Linked DNA regions of Homo sapiens. The protein of the gene in region 2 purifies or fractionates together with the protein of the main gene of each other region. This does not show direct contact. Each region holds a gene or a part of one and is shown on either strand. Other genes may lie near its edges. The genes, in order: BMP2K, KDM5B, GTF2A1, PRDM13, CACNA1H, PCNX1 and NR4A3.

Region 1 (3,500 bases), on a different chromosome or scaffold from region 2:
TTGACTAGAAACCATCAAAATATCATTCTACCATATTTAGTTAAAGAAAAAGAAGAAATACATTACTTAGAGCCAAAAATAAAAACAGTGGGTGAATATATGAAATTTCACAGTATACTAAAATAATGTAAATGAGTTATGATTCTGTGCACCATCTACACAGTTTTTAATGCTGTAAATACATGTTGTTAGTGCTTATTCTAAATATTATACCCCCATCTCCCACCTACTTGAAGAACAGCTATTTTTATGTTAATAATACAGATCTCAGTAAATATGGGGATTATTAGGATTTAGGGTATATTGAATTATAAAGCAACATATTTAGGCTTATACTTTTGGGAAATTAACTTTAGCAGTGAAATAATCCTGATTAAATTTCATAGTAAATCAAATGTGTATTATTTAATCTAACAACTAGTGGGAATCTGGCCCCAGACACAAATAGTGGGAAGATCTGAAATTTTTTTTTTTAAATTATAGGAATATGTTTAGGCAAAGAAATGGAGTATGAAGGTTTATGGCATTCTTAGCTAGAGGTCACATTCTAAAGTGCTGTGCATTGTATAGTTATAACCAACTTTATAACTTAAAATACTTATTCTGACAGTCTTTTATGTCTATGGAATAGGACTGAAAGCCTTAGAATATACTGAAATACTTTTTATTTTTGTGTAATTCACCTTTCTTTCCCAGCTCTTCTGTAGTTTCATGATGAATAGATGATTAAGTAGATCACTGCTACTGCAGAAACTTACCTTGGATTGTGGTAACTTGCAGCCTGGAACCTAACTTTTCCTCAGCAGGAGGTACTGGAGAGATAAAAGGATTAATAGTTTGTCTTAGTATGCTTTCAGAGAGCCTCATTACTGCTCTTTACTTTTTATAAGTTTATAACAGCAGTAAAAGTGTAGAGTGAAATATTTAAACAATGTCAGTGTGGGTTGCAAGAATATGGGAGAAAACAGGAATTTGGATAAATATTTTTGATTGTTATTTTAGTTTTATGTAGGGGGGCAAAATAAGTAAAACCAGTCTATCTACACCAACAGAAAATTTCCCCAGTTGCCCGTACTATTTGCAGATGTAACCTGAAAGCACAAAGGTGGTATAGATGATTGTGTCTTTTCTTGCTCTTTTTGAAAGTGTGTTTCCATTTCTTATACTGTGTTCTCAAATATAGCTGTCTAAAAATCAAAAATAGAATTTCCAGGATCTAAAATGTACCCTTATGCTGTGTGGATATACATTTGTTGGTCTACTTACTTCTGGTCAGTTCTGAAGTGGATCTCAGCTCCTCTTGAATTAGCCATAGACTTGCTTCTCCCTACACTTCTCCCTCATTTATATTCACCTGCAACCACTGGGCCCAGAAAAGTTACTAGAAGCTTATTGGGTATGATGGATAAAATAATTGAATTTGGCCATTCCCAGGACATGATGATGGTAGAGTGCTTATTATGTGTTCAGGCACCGTTCTAAGTCCTTTCTTCACAATAGCTCTATGATATAAAATGTGTTATCCCATTTTGTGTATAAAGAAAGTGGAATAGTGGTGACCTTGTCAGGATTATTATTGGGTTAGCTTTAGTAGCTGTGTTAATTACCCATGAGGAGGGAATCATAGTATATAAATAAAGTGAAATTGATACTAAAAAAGGAGGGTTTCCTTTTTACTCCTTGAAGGAAAAAGTGCATGAATCATGGTTGTATCTAAAATGCCGAAAAACTAGAAACAACCTAAATATTCTATTGCTAAATAGTGAACAGTTATATATGGAATATTTTATCATATTTCTATCAGAATAAATAATAGACTGTTGATACCTGAAAAGATGCATTAAAAATAGTAAGTTAAAAACCCACAGATTTATACCCACACTGACAATTATAAATGTGTATTTCTATTAATACAACTTTGATAAATGGACAAAGGGCCAACAGAATGAGAAGTATAAAGTGACAGATGTCTTCTGAAAAGTAATGGTAGCCAGTTGAATAATGAAAACAGTAAATTTTAAGAAGACTAGGGAGTACAATGTAATAATTTTAAAAAGAAGGCGAATTTAAATTCACTTCCAAGTGACACTCTCCAAGATGAATTATCTGTCCTACGTTAAATGTTCCAGAAGACCTTCAGGAACACAACTAGAAATGGAAAATTTCAAGATAAGTTGTATAGCAGCATTTCCCCAAAGTACTTTTGCATAGTTGGTTTTAAAGGTTAACAGGCATTACATGTAAATAAAAGGGTAGTGAAGACAATTTGGGAAATCCTAGGGTTCATAAAATTAGATTCTTTTGTGTAGGACTCATTAGCACCTTTAATGAGCATACTCCAGGTGAGTAGGAGTGGAGGCAGAATGCAGAGTGCACCATTTCATAGACTTGTTTGCTTGAGACCACAGAACTGTTTGTCTTGGTTCTTGTTAGGGAAATAGCCTCTGCAGAATACACTTTGGGCAACATTGGAATGTTACTTGGAGGTGTCCGTGAGCAGGCGTGAGGTGTGAATGTTGTGGCTGTGGGTGGGTATGCAGCTCGAGGAGTAATACGTTAAACGTTTCACAGTCAGGGATGATGGGAAATCTTCTGGAACCGTACATATTTTATTTTCATTTTTCCCTTCTTCCCATATTTTGCTTTTGAATAAAAATTCATAAAAATAAATTCACTAAAATTAACTTTGTTTTTAATATCATAAATACGCTGTGTAGGGAAGAAGTCAAACTTGAGAATCTGCATTTGATTTGCTTTTAATCTGGAAGGATAACAAATACAGCATGTAGCTCTTGGCTGGTTTTAAGGAACTGACAGAAGATTATATTTGCAATTAAGTATAACCTGGTGGTATTCTTCACATACTTGTCTCCCACACATTCTTTAGCACCACTACTCATGTCAACATTGCCAACAAACTATACAAGATGACCAGATCCAGTGGCCATTTTATGTCCTTAGTTTACTGGACCTCTTTGCACCATCCAGCTCAGTTGTCTGTTACCTCCCTCAAACATTCTTCTCTCTCCATTTCTGTGACATTGCACTCAGCTGTTTTCTTCCTCCTCTCTGGCTGTTACTTTGTAGTTTGTTTTGTATGTTCATCTTCCTCTGCTGACTTCTGAATGTTTTATACTGAGGGCTCAGTTTTGGATCTTCTTTTCTTCTATGTTTTCTTCCGAGGTATGCCCTTTAGTCTTGTGGCTCTCTCTGCATACCAACTGCATGGTGATAACTCCCAAATCTATTTTCTTCAGCCAAAAACTAACCATTGGTTTCAAATCACAGATACCTAACTGCTGTACACTTAAATGTTGTCTCACACATATGTCAAGCTTAATGTCTCCAAACAAAATTTTTAGTACTCCTCTTCACTTTCCAACTTACTCATTTTTTAAAAAATTATGCTCATTAAAATTTGTGTGTGGGTACATAGTAGGTATATACATTTATGGGGTACATGAGATATGTTGATACAGGTATACAGTGCATAATAATCA
Region 2 (3,500 bases):
TCAGTGAGACTCCCAAACTGCTTGGCTTCTGAAAACTTAGAGTACTTACATTATTTTGTATATGGCAGCTTAGGGGTTCTCAGAAATTTGAAAATATAGTAAGATAAATGTGAGAAAACGTGATTAAGTCAAGAAGACTATACTTCAAATCTGAGTTTGAAGTTTAATACAAACCTTTGTTTCAAATTATATCAACTATGTAGGATAACCAGGCTTGTTTTCTGGACCAAAACCTTCTTAAATTTACAATTCATCTGGCTTCTGGTTTTGTCACCTTTAAAATGCAAATTTTTAATTTCCTCCATGATACTGTACTTAGATGTCTGTTTAAGGACAAATGATATTTTTCCATATCACTTTGTGGTATTTGGAGATGAGTAATTTTAAGGGTGTAACTATTAGGCAGAAAAATAGTTGGCTGCTCAGTAAATACTTTTTTGTCTCCCAAATTTTGATAGGAATATATTTATGGCTTTAGTAACTTATTTTCTTGCTTTCAAATGTCTCACATTTGGCCATAGATAGATTCCACAAATTTCTTTTTTTTTTTTTTTTTGAGACGGAATTTTGCTCTTGTTGCCCAGGCCTGGAGTGCAGTGGCTCATCACAACCTCTGCCTCCCGACCTCAGGTGATCCATGCGCCTCGGCCTCCCAAAGTGCTGGGATTACAGGCGTGAGCCACCGTGCCGGGCCTAGATTCCACAGATTTCTTCTTTGTGTCCGGAGAAGGTTTAAATCAAACCCCAGAGGCCACAAGAGACAAAAATTTTTCAGCTTTAACTTCTTGTGGTTACTAGTTTGATTCCTTCATCTTTATAGCCAAGTGTAAAACTGCCCTTAAATGTTTTAATACAGTCACCATTTTTGAGTGAGCCTGTTGGTTCCACTCCTAGAGAAGAGGGAGGAACTTATACACTTCTTTGTATGGTAGAAGTGTTAATGATATGGAGCTCATTTACTCCCTTTCCAGCGTATCATTCTCCCTAATTTGGGGTTTGATCGACTTAGGCCTAACCCTCTCTCTGTTTTCCCTATTTCTTTGGTGTCATGAAATCTTTCCCTACTTGTATCTTTGGCCACTTTAAGCCTTTAACGTTTAGAGAAGAGGCTTATCAGTAGAAACATCCTTGAGCAAAGGAAGAACTTATAACTACTTAAAAAAAAAACCCTTTTATTGAAATATACCATACAATTCACGAATTTATGATGTGTAATTCAGTGGTTTTTGATATTTTCAGAGTTGTACAACCATCACCACAATCAATTGTAGAACATTTTCATCTCCCTCAAAAGAAACCCTGAACTCACTTGTAACTACTTTTTTTTTCCTTTTTTTAAATTATACTTTAAGTTCTAGGGTACATGTGTACAACGTGCAGGTTTGTTACATATGTACACATGTGCCATGTTGGTGTGCTGCACCCATTAACTCATCATTTACATTAGGTATATCTCCTAATGCTTTCCCTCCCCCCTCCCCCGACCCCTAACTACCTTTTAAGACAAATTTAGGACTATAATGCCCAGGAGAAAAACCTGGTAGGAGGTTGGATTAAGTCCTACAGTTCTAGGCCACAAATGTCTACCTTTTTTTTTTGAGATGGAGTTTTGCTGTTGTTGCCCAGGCTGGAGTGCCATGGCGCAACGTCATGTTGCTCACTGCAACATCCGCCTCCCGGGTTCAAGCGATTCTCCTGCCTCAGCCTCCTGAGTAGCTGGGTGGGCATGCACCGCCACGCCCGGCTAACTTTGTATTTTTAGTAGAGACGAGGTTTCACCATGTTGGTTAGGCTGGTCTTGAACTCCTGACCTCAGGTGATCCACCCACCTCGGCCTCCCAAAGTGCTGGGATTACAGACGTGAGCCACCGCACCTAGGCCACAAATGTCTACCTTAAAGCTAAAACAAACTTCATTTGTTGTAGTTATTGAATGGGTGTTTAGCTAAATTTGACTTTGCCAGTGGTAAATTGGGCACATTAGTAGCCACAAACATATCTACCCAGTTGTAATTCTTAGTGAACTAATAAACAAAACGTGTAGACTTTAAGAATGTAATGTGAATGATATTGCAAATATGAGTCAGCTAAAGATTTGAGTCCCCACCCCCACTGGAAAAATTTCCTTCCCTTCCTATGGTTATAGGGTATGGTTTTAAACATGCAATCTAAACTTTTAAAAGAGCGAAATGAGTAGAGAATTACCTTTGAAAAACATTAATAAACATTCTCTATTAAAAGCCAGGGCCTGAAATTTCCTTTTTTTTTTAATCTCACTCTGTCATCCAGGCTGGCATGCAGTGTTGCAATCAAGGCTCCCTGCAGCTTCCACTTCTTGGGCTCAAGTGCTCCTCCCTCCTCAGCCTCTAATAAATTGTAGGGATGCGGTTTCTCAGTATGTTGCCCAGGCTGGTCTTGAACTCCTGGCTTCAAGCAGTTCTCCCGCTTTGGCCTCCCAAAGTGCTGGGATTACAGGCATGGGCCAGTGCACCTGGCCTGAATTATTTTGTTGAGACACTGATAAGAAAAATTAAGAGAAAATTATTAAACCTTAATTTTATTCTTTCTCTGTTTCTAGGGTAATTTTCTTTATGACCTGTTGGCCTAGACTTAGAGTATTAGAGTATTTCAGGTTGATAGATTAGTGAAAAATGTGTTTACTGGTTTACATTTATAAGTGGGTAGAAATCTGCCAGTGGGGGAATTTTCTCTTGGGTAAAAAAATACAGGGCTGGGCATAGTGGCTCGTGCCTGTAATCCCAGCACTTTTGGGAGGCCTAAGTGGGCGGATCGCTTGAGGTCAGGAGTTCAAGACCAGCCTGGCCAACATAGCGAAACCCTGTCTCTACTAAAAATATAAAAATTAGCTGGGCATGGTGGCAGGCGCCTGCAATCCCAGCTACTCGGGAGGCTGAGGCAGGAGAATTGCTTGAACCCAGGAGGCAGAGGTTGCAGTGAGCCGAGATCACTCCATTGCACTCTAGCCTGGGCAACAGGCTCAAAAAAGAAAACAAACACAACAACAACAACAACAAACAACAACAACAAAAAAACAGTGTAAACTATTTGATTAAAAAAAATGAACCCTGTTTAAATGCTGTAATGGGACCTTTTTGTAGACTTTTGTAACCTTTCATTGTTGCCTTAATTGGACCCCATTAAGGTTGGCTGTAGAAAAGGATAAGGGAAAGCCCGTGCCCCTAAAATGAAAGTGCTAATTAGGTTTCTGGTGTTCAGGGTTTTTTGAAGCCTATGCGTGTACTTCTTTCCAAATGCCATCTATAGGTTTGAAAAACTACTAACCTAGGAGTACCTTGCTTTCATCCTTGGACAGTCCTCTCAGTGTTGAGATTGTTGTGCAATTTTTTTTTCTCTAAGAGAATTTGGTATTTTCTAATATACCTGTTATAGTACAGATCATTGGCAGCCTCAAAAAAAAAAAAAGATGGAATGAAGGTTGGGAACTGGAGGGCTACACATTCTCAAATTTAAGTTTGGGTC
Region 3 (3,500 bases), on a different chromosome or scaffold from region 2:
TGGCCAGGCGTTGTGGCTCACGCCTGTAATCCCAGCACTTTGGGAGGCGGGCGGATCATGAGGTCGTGAGTTCGAGACCAGCCTGACCAACATGGCAAAACCCCGTCTCTGCTAAAAATAACAAAATTAGCCGGGCATGGTGGCGCGCACCTGTAGTCCCAGCTACTCAGGAGGCTGAGGTGGGAGAATTGCTTGAACCCAGGAGGCAGGGGTTGCAGTGAGCCGAGATCACACCATTGCACTCCAGCCTGGGTGACAGAACGAGACTCCATCTATAAAAAAAAAAAAAAAAGGTAGACCCAGGTTTTCAGATTCTCAGTCCAGTGTTCTTCATGTGAAGGCAGTGTATAACTTTTGTCCTGGTAGCTGGCATATACATAGTATGTGCTCAATAAATGAAGCAGTTATCTTTAGAAAATCCTTATTTTCTAGAAATTTGATAAAATAGAAATTTAATGGGTCACTACACTAGTTAAACTAATTGCTTTTGTACTTTGGTAGTTTTTAACTGTGTATGAAATATGGCCATTCTGGTGAATCTTAAGCATTTGTTTCTATTTCTGTGTACCATACTTGATCCTCTTAACTAGTTACTGTTATGTGGTTTTCTTTTGCTTTAGGTGCTGGCTCCTCTTCCTGGAGGGATTTCACCACAGACAGGTGTCATCATCCAGCCTCAGCAAATCTTATTTACAGGAAATAAGACTCAAGTTATACCTACGACAGTGGCAGCACCTACACCAGCCCAAGCACAGATAACTGCAACTGGCCAGCAGCAACCGCAGGCCCAGCCTGCTCAAACACAAGCTCCATTGGTCTTACAAGTTGATGGAACTGGGGATACATCATCTGAAGAAGATGAAGATGAAGAAGAAGACTATGATGATGATGAGGAGGAAGACAAAGAGAAAGATGGAGCTGAAGATGGGCAGGTGGAAGAAGTAAGTTTCTAGTAACATACTTAAAATAATCTACTTGATTATTTCCTTTTTTAGTTGGTACAACACTGATAAATTATATCCTGTTTTTTTCAGAGACTGTTAGGTGCTGTACAACATAAGATTTTAAAGATAAAGTTAGATTGTTTTAACTTTAGTAAGGTTTTTATATTCTGGCTATATTTATCTTCATAAAATATAACTTTCATATAGCTGGTAATAAAAAATGTATAACAAATTAAATTGTATTAATATGTGTAGTAAAGAGTACAGGTAATTCTAACTCTGGCTTACGCATTTATAATGTGGCTTAAACATAAGACATTGGTAGATAAATAGATGTGGTTAATCTTTTGCTTCAGTAATTTAAAAAGCGTGGCAACATTTGGGGAGAGAGCAAACTCAAGAACCAAATGTCACAAATTTATTAAATATTTAAAACCTTTTGGTCCATGTTCTATACCACTTCCTTAAAAACCTATGTACCCTTAATGTCTGTGTTCTTCTAGAAGCATATAAATATGCCTTTGTTTTCCTCACTATTTCAGCTTAGTTACTAGGCTCCAAAAACTATTTGTCCCACCACAATTTTCACTGTTAATTGCCTTCGTTAGCCTAAAATGCAGTCTTTTTGTTTCTTAGTACAAAGTTCTTCTAAATTATCTAAGTAATTTTTTTTCTGAAGAAAACATAGTTTATTATTGAATATTGAATAGACACAAATGAATAGAAATGTTTCAAGATAAAAATCATCCTGGTGCCCACCATCTAGTTAAAATAAAATTCCATTATTTAAAGTGCCTTAGATGCCTCTCCCTAATCCCATCATTCCTAGGCCATCAAAGTACCTTTGCTCATACATTTGTGTTGATTATTAATTGCTTTTATATTTTACCATATATATTTATATTCCTAAATAGCATATTGTTTAGTTTTGCATGTTTACAACGTAAATGAAGTAATTACGTATTCTTCTGCAAGTTGGTTTTTTCCCCTTAAAATGATATTCCTGAGGTTTATCCAAGTTGTTGCATATAGCTATAATTATTTTCATTGCTGAATATACCATAATTTTATTTGTCAATTTTTCTAATCCAGTGGACATAAGGATTGTTTCTTGTTGTTTACTGTTACAAACAGTTATAAAATATTGTAGTGTATGTCTTCTGGGGACACAAATGCAAGAGGTTCTCTAAATTTTATACCGAACATTGAACTTCTGGCTCCTAAGTCATGCACATCTGCAACTTTATAATAAAATGCCAAATCACTTCTGCCATTCAATACATAATTGTGCAGATGTCCATACCCCCTTATCAATACCTGATAGTGTCAGGCTTCCTGATTTTTGCTGGTCTGGTAGGTAGAAAATAGTATTATTTCATTTTGGTTTTAGTTTGCATTTCCTCACTTAGGAGTTTTAGCCTCTTTTTGTATATTTATTTGATATTTGTGTTTTGTATAGAAGTGCTTATTGAGGTCTCTTGCCCGTTTCCTCCCCCTAAATTCTTCATAGTTTCAGTGCTTCTTGAAGTAACATGTTTTTATTACCTTTTCCAGTTTATTGGTAGGATGGAAATATGTAGCGCTTTTAATATTCATCCTTGAACCAGCCACCGTCCTAATGTCTTTTGTTAGTCCTCATAATGTATCTGTAGATTCTTTTGTATCTTCTGTGTAGACTTTCACATCTTATATGAAGAACGGCAGTTTTTTGTGGCTCATTGGCTAAGCCTTCGGGAACAGTATTGATTAGAAGTGGTGATAGCAGGCACTCTTCTCTTCTTCTTAAACTGAAAAGTAATCTTTTCCATGCTTCACTGTTAAGTTTAATGTTTGTTGTGGGTTTTCTTTTTTTTTAATGGATATCTTCATCAGGTTAAGTAAATTCCCTTCTTTGCATTGCTTTGTTTTTTAAACTGTAAGTGAATGTTGCATTTAATTAAACACCTTTTCTGCAATGATTTGTATAATTTCTCACGTAATGTTATTTATAATGGATTTCATTAATTGATTTTCTATTTGTAAACCAATCTTGTACTCCTGGGATAGCACAACTTGATCATTTTATATTTCTCTTTTTATAAATTGCTGAATTCATTTTGTTGAGGACTTTTTTGTAGATATTTATGATTGATAGATACTGTGTGATTTTCTGTTCTCATACTCTTCTTACAAGGTTTTCAGTTATGGTAGCTTTGTTAAATGAATTTGGGGACATGTTTCCTGTATTTTGAACTCTTTTTTTTTTTTCAAAGATTGTATTTAATTCTTCTGTTGATATTTGTTAAAACATGACACTACAGATACCTGGGTCTAGTAATCTCATGCCCTTCAAGTATTTTGTTTCTGTTTGAGACCGTTTTGATAAGTTATATTTTTCTAGGACTCTCTATATATTTATCTAAATTTTCAAGTTGATTAACATGAAGTTAATCATGATATTGTCTTTTTGATGCCAGAATCCTTTGTCATCTTCATTCCTAATATAATTATTGTGCCATCTTTTTTTTTCCCTGTTCAGTCTTACCAGGGATGTGTTGATTTTATTAATGTTTTCAA
Region 4 (4,113 bases), on a different chromosome or scaffold from region 2:
CTGAGGGCCCTCTGCCCTTTTGTGCAGTGGTTGGGCCTCTGGCGCTAGGCTTGGAAATACACCACCACTCAGGCCTCTCTTGGAAGAACTGCATCGGGCTCCGGTGCTGGCTGCATAGGATTTGGGGAGCTGTGCTCAGAACTAGCAGCACGCGGCAGGTGCCGGCAGAAATCACAAATATCTGATGAACTTGATTACTTGGCTACTATTTATGAAAATAAATGTTCTCACGCCAATTGGAGGCTTCCCTAAAAGAAAACGGGTAGCTCTCCGGTTTAACTCTGAAGTACAACGTCTTGTTAGTTCACAAAGTAGGTGTAAGAAAGAGTTGTCCCAAACGCCCACCTCGCCCCTCTTCTCTACAACCTTTAACAGATTGCGGTGATTTTCGTTTTTGTTTACTGTTTTTTTTTTAATAGAAAAGTCCAGGTTGCTGGTTTTAGGGAAGTTAGTCCAAGGACATCTTCTAGGGGACGTGATCAATAACCCACTGGTAGAACTTCTTCCTCTTCAACCCTGGGCTGCGGACCGGGGCGCAGGATCCCCATTCGAAACTGTTGGTTCTGGGGCTGTTTCCCATTCTCCAGAGAAAGTGCAGGCCCGGGGTGTGCCCGAGAAAAGTGATGAGCAGTTGACCTCCCCTTCTCAACTTGGTCTGGAGGCTTCATCATATTTTCGGACGAAATGGGACAGAAGTGAGAATTAAAGCGGTTCTGAATAGACGACTGGCCTGAACCCAATCCCCTGAAATGGTAATATGGTTGTTATTTAAAAAGTGTAGGTATTTTCTGGTGTTTTCCCATCAAGTACCTGCCTAATTTCTGTATGGCACACGCCAGAAATCAATAGTAGTTAACAAGTCCTCCAAACAGTCTCCATCTCTTTGTTTAATCTCCTTTACAATAAAGCCAAGGGGAGAGAATTAAAAATCTTTGAAGTAGATCAAGGCTCAAAGGAATCAGCCAAGTAGACTTAAAGTAGTCACTTATTTCCCAAAACTGGTTTGTCGGGGAACAATAAAAGGAAGTAAAATTTATGGAGAAATTATACAGTGGATTTGTCACTTAAAATATCGTAACTGTCTGGAGGACAATACCCCATGCTGAGGATTAATGGTCCCGCCGGACCTTTGATTCACCAGTGCCTTTTCTTCGCCCTTGACAAATTGGATTTTTAGGAATGGGAAGGTCGCCTGGACCATTGTGTGCTAGCCATTCAGCGGCCTCGATTATGCAGGGGGCTGAGGGAACCACTCCATGTGACCCTCTCGGGTGGGACTCTGCAGCTGCTTCGCAGCGCAACTCTCTCACCAAACTCCGCGCCCTTGCGCTAGCGGTGCCAAAAGGCTCCCGCCCCGATTGAAAAGGCGCAGTGCATGCCCGCCCGCGTCACTCCGCGGGCGGAGGACGCACGTCGGGGCGCGGCTCTCTGGCTAGCGCGCAGCTCCAGCTCTGTCACTCGCGCCCTTCCAAGGACCTGGAGCACCCGAGCGCCTGCCTGGTGGCGGCGGCAACAATGCACGGAGCCGCCAGAGCGCCAGCCACCAGCGTGAGTGCCGACTGCTGCATCCCGGCCGGCTTGCGCCTCGGACCGGTGCCTGGTACCTTCAAGCTGGGCAAGTACCTGTCAGACCGCAGGGAGCCCGGGCCTAAGAAAAAGGTATTGACCATTCAGACCTCTGCCCACTGCCATTCGCCTCTCAGTGCCCTGACCCGGGAAAGGGGTACGAGAGAAAGTGGAGGAAGGGAGTGATTGAGTCGTTACCTGCTAATTCTGCCGGGTGGAAGGGGACTCCTATTATTCTGAGCAAGTAGCCTCTTTAACTGTGAGAGCTGGACGGGGTCGGGCTGAGAGGAGAGGATGTGGCCGAGAGGCGACAGCCCTGGGTGGGGTGCACTGAGCGCTGTAGGTGCCGGGACCATTCGCAGCTTGTGTTTTCCCCTGCGCTCTCGGGTCTCCTCAGTCAGAAGCCAGAAGCCCACCCCCGCACGCTGTCCGCAGCTCTCTCTGCAAAAGCACCCTCTTTCTGGGGGCTCAGGGCATCGAGACCCTTTCTTCCCTTCTGCCCTTCAATATGTTAATTTGAGGCCTAATTTCGCCTTAAAGTAATTTTTTTTCCTGAAAAAAAAAATCTTTGGGAGGCTCTCAGTTCCTAGAACCTCCTCAGATATTTTTTTTTCCCTTGCCGATGTCGGCTTGTGGGTATGCGGCATATGGAGAGAGGATGAGCAAGGTACTGGCTCTGACGCGGGCTCCAAGGGCGAGGCGCGCCCATTCGCGCGGGGCACAGGGTCAGAGCGTCTGCAGCGGGGCTCTGAGAGTCCAGAGGCCCAACCGGGAGGCGCCAGGGCCAAACCACTAGCTTTGACTCCCACACTCCACACACCGTCGCGACCCCTGACCAGAGAGACTTATAGCACTCGCCCGCTTTGGGGGCGTCCCAGGAGCCAAAGGTCGGCAAACAGCGACCGGGAAATGAAGGCAGAAGTCTGGGGTAGAAGAAAGGACTTTGGCTTCCTTGGCTTTAGCTTGCCTTGCTTGGAGCTTTCTAGTAAAAAGCTCCGGTGTCCAGCCAGCGGGACTTGCACCTCGCTCCTCCTGCAATCACGCCCCCCACTACAGTCTAAAGCGGGGTTTGGTGCCCACCGCGCATTCCTCTTTAAACGCGTTTTAATTGCTTTTAAATGGCCTGCCAGCTGCGGGCAAGCTTTTCCCCGCTTGGGCTTTGTTCCGAGACTTTAGCTGCAGGGCTCACAGGCAACTAGGTGCGATGCACACAGAATACAGGAGGCATGAGATAATTTTTTTGTTTGTTTGTCGGGGGTACGCTCTGGGCCCTGGGACTGACCTAGAAATGTCTCTACCGTGGTGTTACGGCTGCTCTCAGAACTGCAAATGGGAGAGCTGGGGTAGGGGACAACTTGGTACAAGATGTGCCTAAGCACTCAGGGAGGATGCTCTCAACACCCCTCTCCCCTCCCCGTGTCGTCAAGGTGGGGCGCAGGGAAGTGGGAGTACTGTTAGCATAGGTAGACTTTCCTCTTTCTCCCTCCCCGAAGCAAGGTCCTAAGGAATTCTCCTCCTCCCAGTAGCCCATAGTGGTCTGGCCAAACCAAAAACAACCACTTTCCTGTGTTGGGTTGGGGTGGAGGATAAACTTTCTGTTTGGGTTGTGGGCCTGGCCAAGGTGCGGGGGAGAACGACCACTGCTTGTGTTGCAGGTGCGCATGGTGAGAGGGGAGCTGGTGGACGAGTCGGGGGGCTCCCCTCTGGAGTGGATAGGGTTAATCCGGGCAGCCAGAAACTCCCAGGAACAGACTCTGGAAGCTATTGCAGACTTACCCGGAGGACAGGTACTGCGGGCTTCTCTCCACACCCCCCCACTCCCCACCGCCAATTCAGTCTACCTAACCGTCCCTGCGGTGGCCAAAAATATTAAGAGCAAAGTACTTTAGCTAGACGTCTCATTTAAACGTCTCGACAACCCTTTAAGGTAGTTACTATTGTTTTTCCGTTTGAAGGATGACGGAAGTGAGGTTCAGAGAGCTCCAGTAGCTTCTCCAGGGTCACACAGCATCAGAATCCGGATTTGAACCTTTCTTCTCAGTTGCTTTTTGACCGATTACCCAGGAAATGACATTGAACTGTTCTATTCCTTGCGTCCCAGATCTTCTACCGAGCATTGCGAGACGTCCAGCCAGGGGAGGAGCTGACAGTGTGGTATTCTAACTCCTTGGCTCAGTGGTTCGACATCCCCACCACAGCGACTCCGACTCACGACGAGAAAGGTACCCATTCCAAAAGCGTGGATGGGCAAAAGTCCAGCCCTCCTCCTCCTGTCTTGAAGCGAGTCCCTAGACATAGCTCGATCTATGTAAAATGGAATTCACATTCCCTGTATTTCAAGGCAAAGAGGAGAGAGGTCGCCACTACCTCCTTAAAATCAACCATAAACGATAACAGTGATAGTAGCAATCTGGCTCACAATGGCAGGGGAAAAAGTAGGCTCTATGAACTTAATGGGGCCATCCTTTTTCTGTTGCATATTCAAACAGACCATTATTTACTCAATTAAAATAAAAAAAATTAGGCGCGGTAGCTCACACCTGTAAT
Region 5 (3,500 bases), on a different chromosome or scaffold from region 2:
GCCTCCAACTGGCGTCACAACTGCTCCTTAGGGAGGGGAGGCCTGGGGGCCGGGCTTAGCAGGAAGTCGATGAGAGAGACGGGGCTGGAAGGGCAGGTGAGGGCCGCACAGGGACAGAGGCTGGGAGTGGGGAGCACTGGTGTCCCACACACTCAGGCCCAGAGGGCGTGGCTGCTGCCAGCCCCTGAAGGAAGCTCTTGGACTCGTGGGCAACACGCTCCAAGCACCCGAACTTCATTCTTGCCGGGGCCAGCTGCGGGCACCCTCCCTGGCCTGGTGGAACGCTCAGGGGTGGTTCTGCATACTCCCCTCACCTCCCCCAAGGGCTGAGAGCCGAGGGCGATGCGGCCCCACCAGGCCGGGCTCCTGGAGCTGCAGAAGAGACGTCCCGTTCCGGGGTCAGGACAGGAGGAATGCGGGGGAGGGGCCAGCCTGTCAAACACTCCGGGGATGGATCCACAGCAGCTCTGCTGGCTGAGTCCAAGCCACGGTCGCACAGTCAAGGTCAGGCGAGGAACGCGTTACCTTTGTTTATGCAGATGTCGGCCAGGCCGTCCGTCCAGCCGCCTGTGCCGAGCCCGCTGTGGGAAGGGCGGGGACTGTCCCTGCCTGTCCTCGTCAGTGGGCATTCCCCTCCCTGGCACGGAAGAGGAGTCTCTCCTCAGTGGCTCATGTTGGCGTAACTTGGAACAACTCTAAGTCACGCGGGCCCAGGTTGAATTTCCAGGGTGGAGATTAAGGAGCGACCACTCACCCTGGGCAGATACAAGGGGTGAAGTCAGCCGGTCGCGCCCTGAGCAGTGATGGACGGCCGCCTCGGTCAGAGATGGTGGGGGCGGGGCTCGGGGAAGGAGCTCTGCTGGCTCTCAGCCCCTGCCCGGCTCAGGAGAGCTGGCAGCAGGTCTGGGCACCGTCCCCAGAGCACTGTGCCCGCCGAGGATGACAGATGGGGACGGAGTAGCAGCTTGCCGTGGTGCAGGGGGTGTGCCGCCACGTGGCCGCTGGTGTCCCTGGCCTCCGTGCACACTCCTCGCGGGGCGGAGGTGGGCCCGGGCTGACGGGAGAAGCGGGCCGTTGGCGGGGCCGTGAGAGCCCCCGGGTTTGATGAGCCGGACGGTTGATGAATGTGCTCCACGAGGCCTCCTTTGTCCTCTTGCTGCCGCCCGGTCGCTTGCCGGGAGCGGGAGCTGTGGGCAGAGAGATCCTTGGGTGGGTGTGGCCGCCGCCTGCGTTTGGAGGCCCCGTGCAGCGTCAACCCGGGACGCCAGAGCACCCCATCCTCGGGTGCGCGGCCGGCGAGGACCGAGGCATCAGCCCAGTGCGGCCCCCCCCCAGCCTCGGTGCAGCCCTGGGCTCTTTGCCCAAGTTGAGAGCAGGGCTGGCAGGGAGAGGATCCGGAGGCCCCCACGCTGCCTCGGGGTGAAGAGGCTCCTCTGACCCCCAAGGTGTGTAGACCTGACACAGTTGCACCCCCAGCCCTGCTTTGATGTCTGCAGAACTGGCTCCTGCAGAAAAGGCCTTGAGCGAGACCTCAGCGTCTGCTGGCCCTGCTGGACTCGTCTGACCCTGGGCTGCTGGTGGTGTGGGTGCTTCTGCCGTTGGCGACTGATGGGAGCGAAGCTGTTCCTTTGTGGATGGACCGTTAGGTGACACGGGATGTTGGCATTAATGAACGCTGTCAACTGAGCCGGTGGCAGAGGTGGGGGCAAGCCCTCGCCTCTGTTGACCGCCAGGCCGCCCTGTGTTCTCACCCCTTCTCCCCTCCCCAGCTGTCTGCACCTGGGCAGAGCCCCCTGGCCGGAGGTGGTTGTCTCTGGGCCCCTCACTGGCCTGAGGACTGAGGTGGGGATACCTTGAGGCCTTTTTTTGGGCAAGGTGGTCTTTAGTAGCCCCAGATGTTAAAGACTCAGCCTCAACTGGGTGGAGCCTCCTGGGATTCTGGGGTCTCCATGGCCACAGGAGGGGGGCTAGCGACCCCTGCCAGCCTGGGCAGTGCCTCCACGTGGGCCTCAGTTTCCCTGTCACACCACTTTGGTCTGTCATCTCGGTCACTGATGGAGTGAGGCTCCCAGCAGGCGGGTGAGAGAAGGGGCCAGATGCGGTCCCGGGAGATAGGCTGTCAGCCCCGTCCAGTCGGTGGGTGGCCAGTGCGGCGGCTGATGGGGGACAGACCGCTGGCCAGGCCCCACGCCAGCCCTGTCCCCATCTGTGAGCAGCACCCGGACCTCCTGGGTCCCCTTGCCGCAGCCTGCCTGTGGGGTGGGTCCGTGGGGTGGGCCTGGTCGGACGCGTTAATGGAGCTGCAGGCAAGGCTCGGGGCAGATCTTTCTAGAAGGCAGCAGAGCCATCACGGTGGGTCAGGCTGTGTCCCGTGAAGTCTGAAGTGGACTGGCAGAGGTGGGCACTGAGGTCCCTGCTCCGGACCCTGTCGGGGTCGTGTCACCTCCTGGGCGTTGGTTTTCTCATCTGTGAAATGGGCCTGCTGCCCTCCTGGCCTCTGGGTGTGTGGCGGGGACTCCTCGTCCCCACTCAGTCCCATGGGTGATGCAGGACATGGGATCCTGTCAGCCCCATGACCCCTCGCCCTGGGCCTCTGGCCTCCAGAGCCCCAAGAGGCCATTGCTGTCTGAGGCCCCTACCTGTGGCACTCTGTTACAGCTGCCTCCTGCCAGGGTGCCCCCACCTGCCCTCACAGCTGCGAGCAGGGGTGCAGGTGCCTGGGGGAGGCCCCCAGCACCTGCTTGGCCCTTTCCCCACCTCACCTGTGGGCCCCCCCGGAGGGAGAAAAATGGCCCATGAGCAGGAGGTGCTTGACGCAGTAACAGGAGTCAGCCCCTTTCAGGATGAATCGCGATTGGTCGCCCACTGTTGTCAGGCTCCTCCGATGAGGAGCAGCCCCCAGAGAGAGAGGACGCTTAGCCGTGAAGTGGGTCATTCGGAGCCTCGGTTGGCACGGGGGCTGGTGCTGCAGTTGTGTCTCTGTGCCCTGGTTAGAAGCTGCCCCGCACGGCCAGCTCCTGCGGACACCTGGAGTGGGGGGGGGGGGTCCATCCTAGGAGGAGCCGAGCGTCTTGGGACCCTGTGAAGGGGTCTGGGGGCCGCACTTGGCTCTGGTGAGCAGGGAACAAGATGGATGAGACCCGGGCCCCACTGACGCTGGGAGGACAGTGTCCAAGCTGGGGGACCATCCGCCAGGGCTGTGGCGTGAAGGCCGAGGGAGTATGAGCAGGGGGTGGGATAGTCCCAGGTGGCTGGAAACAGCTGTGGTCAGGTGGGCGAGCAGAGGTCAGTGGCCCCAGGTCCCTGGAACGCCTCTTCTCACGGCCACTCCACGGGTGCCTGGCCCTGCGGCCACGCGGAGCTATCCTTGGCTCCAGCCTCAAAGGCTGTGGGGGCACAGTGGCCGGTGCTCTGCCTGCCTGGACCTTGGGCTCGTCTGACTCTGTGTTTGCTGTGTGTCCCTCACTCGTCACCCAGCCTCTCTGTTCTGGGCAGGTGAG
Region 6 (3,500 bases), on a different chromosome or scaffold from region 2:
ACTGAGATGTTTAAAAAAACAAACAAGCAAAAGTTAGAATGAACTATTTAACTTCTGATCTTTATTAAGTACATGGTATGCTATCATTTTGCAACCTAAGAATCATATTATATTAGCAATATGGTGCTGACTTTTTAAAAAGAGATGCTGCCCAAATTGCATATATAAAATATATAAGACCTGCCATTTAATGGATAAAAGACTGTCAAAACTGAAATAACCAAAAATTTTAAGGCTTTATGGCACATGAGAAACTTTCAGAGGACAGAATAAAGTACTAAAAAAAAATAAGTAAAATTAAGTGCTCATAAACAAGAAAGACAAATGTAATATGGTCATCACATTTTTTTTCTGTGAAAAAACTTTCAATTACTTTTTAAAAGTTTACATCAAGGCTGGGCGTGGTGGCTCACACCTGTAATTGTACAGCTTTGGGAGGCTGAGTCAGGTGGATCACTTGAGGCCAGGAGTGTGAGACCAGCCTGGGCAACATTGCAAAACCCTGTCTCTACAAAAAACACAAAAATTAGCCGGACATGGTGGTGCATGTCTGTAGTCCCAGCTTCTCGATAGGCTGAGGTGGAGCAAAGGGAGGTCGAGAGCCTGCAGTAAGCCCATGATCATGCCACTGTATTCCAGCCTGGGCCCAAAGTGAGACTCTGTCTCAAAAAAAAAAAATTTTAGATCAAGTTATTCAACTTCTATGTTTTGGACCAAATAAATACCTCAAACACTTACTTTAATGACCCTGAAGCTCAGGTAGCGTCTGTTGAGCATGATGATTTTATATTCATTGGTGCCATCATCCATGACATGCCGCAGAGCAAGCAAGGAGGGAGAGTTGGCAAGTACTGCACTCCGCCATGCAGGGTCCCCTTCATGGGCTATTACGAGGTTCTTCTCATGAGATACTATGGCTTCATAGAGCACAGTAGGGTCATCATATTCATCTGGAGAAGTAAAATGATCCTAAATACAAAAATAATATATAAATTTTTAAAGGAAAATAAAAGAACTGATAACTTCTACAGTTACTAAGTGAAAGTTCTTAAAAACTGGTTTATTATGAATATTTCAACACATGTTAATATTATTAGAGATAAATTATAGATTCTCAGTCATAACTGGGTTAGGAAGTAGCTCATTACTGCTATACTATTTTTGTAAATTCCTCAATCCAACCCTCTCCTCTAAGTTCTAGATGAATAAACATCATTTCTGGTTTTTATGTGTTTTGTTTTTCTCTTTCAAGTTGGTTTTTCATATCTTTATTCATGTTTTTTTTTCTGTTGAAGGATTACGTCACTATTAGGTAAGGAAGGCTAAAACTACATAAAAGGTCTCTATATTGTGTTTCTTCTTAACTAGATACTTTTCACATAAAGTCGTATCTCTAAAATGGGTTCTAATATATCACTTTATCCTGCCTCTCACCTAGTTAAGATACAGCTCAAAGCTAGCAGCTCTGAGCACAGATTTGGGGTCCTAGTCCTAGAGAAGTTGGTAAAGTTTTCTCTGAAAAGTATCTTGGTCTTAATAACTACTTATTCATTTGATAGTTATTCAGTATCTACCATGTACAAGACTGTCTGGCAGGCAGCATGGATAAAACAAAGAAGATATGAAATGTATCTCCCTATTACAAACCTACACATTAACAGGGACAGGACATATACTGAAATAACTGTAACACAAATCTGCAGTTTTGAAATGGTATATTAAAGAAATGTAAATATGATAGGCTGCTTTCATATTTATAGTTGGGAGGCTGACAAATTTCTGTATCCCAGTAAAGTAATCCATTTGCACTCAAGTCAACTGACCAGAATTTGTGCTATGTGAAAGGAGAAGAGGGAGAGTAAGAAGGAATATCCTTAAGGATAGAGCCTGTTAGCTGGGGGGTTGAGATATGTGAGATAATACTGTATACATAAATAATGCTTCATAATGTAAAATGTTCTACATTATTTCACTGGAATTTTACAACAATCTTGTCAAGTAGGTTGAGTTGATAATACCTGCATTTTCCATGTTTAAAAACTGAAGCTTAAAGAGGCTTAATTGCTTCCTAAGTGTAGGAAGTTAGTAAATGCCAGGCAGAAGATTTTGGACCTCGAAGACTGGTATTCTGGAATAACTCAGTCAGACAAAATAAAGAAAAAAGAATAAAAGAAATGAAGAGAGTCTTTGAGGAATACGGGATTATGTAAAGCAACCAAACTTACCAATTAATGACATTCCTGAGAGAGGAGGTGGAAAAGTAAACAACCTGAAAAACATATTTGAGGGAATAACTCAAGAGCATTTCCCTAATCTTGCTAGAAAGGTGGACATCCAGATACAAGAAATCTGAGAACAGCTGTGAGATACTATACAAAATGAACATCACCAGGCATACAGTCACCAGGGTGTCCAAGGTCAACACTAAAGAAAAATTCTTAAAGGCAGCTAGAGAAAAAGGTCAGATCACATAAAAAGGGAACCCCATCAGGTTAATAGTAAACTTCTCAGAAGAAACTTTATAAGCCAGAAGGGATTGGGGCCTGTTTTCAGCATTCTTAAAGAAATTCCAACCAAGAATTTCATATCCTGCCAAACTAAGCTTCATAAGTGAAAGAGAAATAAAATCTTTTCCAGACAAGCAAGTGCTAAGGAAGTTTGTTACCACTTAACCAGCCTTATAAGAGATCCTTAAGGGAGTTCTAAACATGGAAACAAAAAAATAATACCTGCTACCACAAAAACACACTTAAGAACACAGCCCACAGACCCTATAAAGCAACCATACAGTAGAACTACGAAGCAACCATTCATGATACATGATAGGACCTTCATGATAGGACCAACAACTTCCTAATAGGACCAAAACCTCACATATCAATATTAACCTTGAATGTAAATGGTCTAAACACCCCACTTAAAAGACACAGAGTTGCAAGGTAGATTAAAAAAAAAAGATCCATTTGTCTGGTCTCTTCAAGAGACCCATCTCACATGCAATGACACTCATAGGTGCAAAGTAAAGGGCTGGAGAAAGATTTATCATGCAAACAAACAAAAAGAGCAGGGGTCACTATTCCTATATCAGATAAAATAGACTTTAACAACAGTAAAAATGGAAACAAAAGGTCATTACCTAATGATAGAAAGTTCAATTTAACAAGAAGACATAACTATCCTACATATATATGCACCCAACATTGGAGCACCCAGATTCATAAAACAAGGTTTTACTGGCCTACAAAAAGACTTAGCCACATAGTAATAGTACGGGACTTCAATACCCCACTGACAGTGTTAGATCACTGAGGCAAAAAACTAACAAAGAAACTCTGGACTTAAGTTTGACACTTGGCCAATTGGATCTAATAGACACCTACAGAATACTCCACCCATCAACCACAGACTATACATTATTTTTATCTGCACACAGAACATACCCTATGATCGACCACATGCCTGGCCATAAAGCAAGTTTCAATAAATTAAAAAATCAAAAT
Region 7 (3,500 bases), on a different chromosome or scaffold from region 2:
CGCTGGGTGGCCAGGAGCCTCCAAGCCGCCCACCCTCGAAGACACCGCCCTCTGGGTGCAGGGGACCTGCCTCCGCTCGTCCCATCAGCCGCTAACGCCGTCCGCTTCGTCCCCTTGCTTCCAGCGCCAGCCTTCTCATCGCTGTGCCCTTTTGTTTGCTTGACCCCTGGCCCTCGAAACTCGCGGCTAATAGAAGCGAAGCTCCATTAGCATTTAGAATGAAAAGCGCAGACTTTCTTAATTCCTCGGGGCATTCATGCATTCGTTCCGGACCTTGTGCATTTCCTATGCAACGTGTAAAATTTGTATTTGAGGGGTGGGGGCGGGCGGAGCTGGAAAATGGCTTTTTTCCGCTGGTGAACACTCACTGACCCCCCGTATTCGGGCGGAGCTCGTTCCTCAAGTGTTCTGCTTTCTTTGGTTTTCCTGACTTCGTAAGCTCGGAATCAATTGTGGGGGCAGAGAGATCAATTTCTGGGCAATAACAGGCTGCGCGTTTTTTTTTTAGCCTCGGTTTTGGTGCCACAAAACGGTGGTAGGCGCAGTGGGTTCCAACAACCTTTCCTCGGCTTCCCCGAGGCCGTGTGATGCTTCTTGCCCAGGGGGACTCCTGTACCATTAATCACCCTTAATTTTACGATAATTCTTTGTAATTAATGTAACATTTCTAGAGGTTGCCAACCAATTCCCCCAGTCCCCAATGCGCCCAGCCCGGGCCGTAGTGACCCATCCTGGTCTCACTGTGACCTATGTCCTCTTTCACCTTGCCTGTAGAGCCCACTGCGGAAGAGGGCAGCCCGGCAAGCCCGGGCCCTGAGCCTGGACCCTTAGCGGTGCCGGGCAGCACTGCCGGCGCTTCGCCTCGCCGGACGTCCGCTCCTCCTACACTCTCAGCCTCCGCTGGAGAGACCCCCAGCCCCACCATTCAGCGCGCAAGATACCCTCCAGGTAGGTCCGAAGGCAAGACCCTTTTCTCCTCCCTGGCTGAGGGAAGTGGGTGGGGGAACCACACACTCGGCGGGCAGCGTGGTCGACCTGCCCAGTGCCAGGACAGTGACTGCTGGCCGCGAATTTCACAACACAGGTGGCTTCCTCACAGGAAGCTCCTCTGTATACCACACCCTGTTGCTACTGAGTGGAGCAGCCAAATTAAATTAAGCTTGCATTGCTCAAAATTAATTTTCCTAAGAGAAATACAAATACACCAATAGATTAGGGTATTTTATACATTTTTAATTTCATTTTTGCTCTTCTTTTATAGCCAGTGTGCACATGTAAGAGTTATGGAATCACTTAGAGCAATACTGAGCATTTTCATTTATATAAAACCCAAATCATTTGGGTGCAGAAGTTTGGATGATTGAAGCTCAGAGGGAAGGAGAAAAGCATTTGAGATGAAAACCAAAGAGTAAATTTGAGTTTGGCAAAAGAACAGATTGCACTTTTGGTTTGTACCACCTCTTTACAAATTTGTTAAAGGAATACTAGGTGCCAAGCCTGTGTGGGCACCATAGATAATGCAGATAAATAGAATACAATCCCAGCAAGCTCATCTTCTAGCTAGAAACCTCAGAAAGACACAAATAAGAGCAGTAAAAAGGGATTGGCCGGAAAGAATGACAGAAAAGAGTAATGGAGAAATCCTAGAGGTGCTGAAGGGAGAAGGAGAATAGATCAAAGATCAGGCAGTGTTCTTTCTTTTAAATGATTAGCCTTTCATTTCATCCCAACAACTGGACAGCAAGATAAGTAACTGGACTTCAAACTAGTGAGTGTATTTTTAAGGCCCTGCTTGTTAAAGAAAGGCTTGAACTGGCCTCTCCTCATCACTGCTTCTTCCAACAGGCCCTCATCACCTTTTTTCAAGTCAAGATTTCATCCCATACATGCATGACTCAATCAGATTTGGAAATGTGGGTAAGAGAAAGATGTCAAAGGAAATGTGAAGTATTCACTTCTCTATTAGTCACACCTTTTACACCATAGACTCCAAAGAGGCGTTAAGCACCTGGTTTTCCTTTGGCTCAGAAAAACCAACCACCAAAAACCGCCGTTTTTTACCATTTATATTTAGCCATAAAGAAAGAAAAATAATTAGATAAATCATCCACTACATCCAATAATTCTCAGCGCCTTCTCACTCAGTTCAGCCTCTCTGAACAATAGTAAGCACCCTGGATACCAGCCACTTTGGGGGCAACATAGTCAAACTGGCAGAGAAATCAAGTCTATTGAGAAACTGCTTTTTTTCATGGGTACTAATTCTAGTGTCATAAGGAAATACCTATACTAACTTGCCTATTATGATAGTTATAAACTGTTATCACAAAACAGTCACTGATATGTTTTATTAGTTAGAATTGGGATATATATATGTGTGTGTGTGTGTGTGTGTGTGTGTGTGTGTATATATATATATATGGGTGGGTGTTTTGTTGCAGCTGCTGATCTTTTTCTTTGCAGATGGTACAAACTCTCCCGAGTCAATTTCCTGGGCCTATGTCCCCACCTAGCTGACTGAAGTTATCAACAGGGGTCCAGTTTGTGCAGGCTGCTAGCCCTATTGGAAGAGTGGGGATGAGGTGGGAGAAAGCAACCACAACGTGTGTGGGCAACCTCAATTGGCACTCATAAAATGTTAGAATGTCAACTCTCTCCCTTGGCCACTAAATCTCTCACAGGGTAGTTTTTCTTGCCTAACTCAGGTTTACAAATCAATGTGTATGCCTTGGGGGACCAATGGCCTCTTTCCTCCCAAATAAACCACTGGCTTTCTCTTTGTCCCCCTAGGTTATAGCTGAGGAGCCCACTCCAATTAGTTTATAGGATTCAAAGCCTCTTTTTAAAAACATCTCTGAGCTTATGAGGAAAGACTTCAAGTTTCCCAAATCTAGTGGAGGACAGGGCAAGGGAGGAAAGATAGGTACAGGAGTCCACAGGAGGCCAGGTTTTGGCACCCCTTTGTCAGGAATTCAGCTTCCTTACTAGGGATGAAGAAAATAAGTGTGGGGCTTTGTGTCTATGCTACCAGAAGGAGGAGAGGATGACACTTCCTCTCTGTTTCCCAGATTAGAGAACAGTGAACCCAATGCTGCCTGTTGGCTAGAAAACAAGTGTTAACTTGCTTCTGAGAGACCCTTTTCTCTGTCCCTGCAGATATGCCCTGCGTCCAAGCCCAATATAGCCCTTCCCCTCCAGGTTCCAGTTATGCGGCGCAGACATACAGCTCGGAATACACCACGGAGATCATGAACCCCGACTACACCAAGCTGACCATGGACCTTGGCAGCACTGAGATCACGGCTACAGCCACCACGTCCCTGCCCAGCATCAGTACCTTCGTGGAGGGCTACTCGAGCAACTACGAACTCAAGCCTTCCTGCGTGTACCAAATGCAGCGGCCCTTGATCAAAGTGGAGGAGGGGCGGGCGCCCAGCTACCATCACCATCACCACCACCACCACCACCACCACCACCATCACCAGCAGCAGCATCAGCAG

The links.
Region 1: the proteins of KDM5B (region 2) and BMP2K purify together in Homo sapiens (affinity purification with mass spectrometry, with the first as the bait; one study listed by BioGRID). This does not show direct contact.
Region 3: the proteins of KDM5B (region 2) and GTF2A1 purify together in Homo sapiens (affinity purification with mass spectrometry, with the first as the bait; one study listed by BioGRID). This does not show direct contact.
Region 4: the proteins of KDM5B (region 2) and PRDM13 purify together in Homo sapiens (affinity purification with mass spectrometry, with the first as the bait; one study listed by BioGRID). This does not show direct contact.
Region 5: the proteins of KDM5B (region 2) and CACNA1H purify together in Homo sapiens (affinity purification with mass spectrometry, with the first as the bait; one study listed by BioGRID). This does not show direct contact.
Region 6: the proteins of KDM5B (region 2) and PCNX1 purify together in Homo sapiens (affinity purification with mass spectrometry, with the first as the bait; one study listed by BioGRID). This does not show direct contact.
Region 7: the proteins of KDM5B (region 2) and NR4A3 purify together in Homo sapiens (affinity purification with mass spectrometry, with the first as the bait; one study listed by BioGRID). This does not show direct contact.

What each region holds. Positions count from the first base shown.
Region 1 is NC_000004.12:78,905,350-78,908,849, forward strand, and holds part of BMP2K (BMP-2-inducible protein kinase), read left to right. Parts: intron 1-758; exon of another isoform or gene 759-812; intron 813-3,500. UniProt on the Homo sapiens protein: May be involved in osteoblast differentiation.
Region 2 is NC_000001.11:202,801,922-202,805,421, reverse strand, and holds part of KDM5B (lysine-specific demethylase 5B), read left to right. Parts: intron 1-3,500. UniProt on the Homo sapiens protein: Histone demethylase that demethylates 'Lys-4' of histone H3, thereby playing a central role in histone code. Does not demethylate histone H3 'Lys-9' or H3 'Lys-27'. Demethylates trimethylated, dimethylated and monomethylated H3 'Lys-4'.
Region 3 is NC_000014.9:81,189,960-81,193,459, reverse strand, and holds part of GTF2A1 (transcription initiation factor IIA subunit 1), read left to right. Parts: intron 1-620; coding exon 621-941; intron 942-3,500. UniProt on the Homo sapiens protein: TFIIA is a component of the transcription machinery of RNA polymerase II and plays an important role in transcriptional activation. TFIIA in a complex with TBP mediates transcriptional activity.
Region 4 is NC_000006.12:99,605,520-99,609,632, forward strand, and holds the start of PRDM13 (PR domain zinc finger protein 13), read left to right. Parts: upstream 1-1,313; 5' UTR 1,314-1,515; coding exon 1,516-1,659; intron 1,660-3,221; coding exon 3,222-3,353; intron 3,354-3,667; coding exon 3,668-3,788; intron 3,789-4,113. UniProt on the Homo sapiens protein: May be involved in transcriptional regulation. Is required for the differentiation of KISS1-expressing neurons in the arcuate (Arc) nucleus of the hypothalamus.
Region 5 is NC_000016.10:1,159,606-1,163,105, forward strand, and holds part of CACNA1H (voltage-dependent T-type calcium channel subunit alpha-1H), read left to right. Parts: intron 1-3,500.
Region 6 is NC_000014.9:71,099,459-71,102,958, reverse strand, and holds part of PCNX1 (pecanex-like protein 1), read right to left. Parts: intron 970-3,500; coding exon 739-969; intron 1-738.
Region 7 is NC_000009.12:99,824,885-99,828,384, forward strand, and holds part of NR4A3 (nuclear receptor subfamily 4 group A member 3), read left to right. Parts: intron 1-774; 5' UTR 775-948; intron 949-1,845; exon of another isoform or gene 1,846-1,886; coding exon of another isoform or gene 1,887-1,917; intron 1,918-2,463; exon of another isoform or gene 2,464-2,582; intron 2,583-3,156; coding exon of another isoform or gene 3,157-3,158; coding exon 3,159-3,500. UniProt on the Homo sapiens protein: Transcriptional activator that binds to regulatory elements in promoter regions in a cell- and response element (target)-specific manner.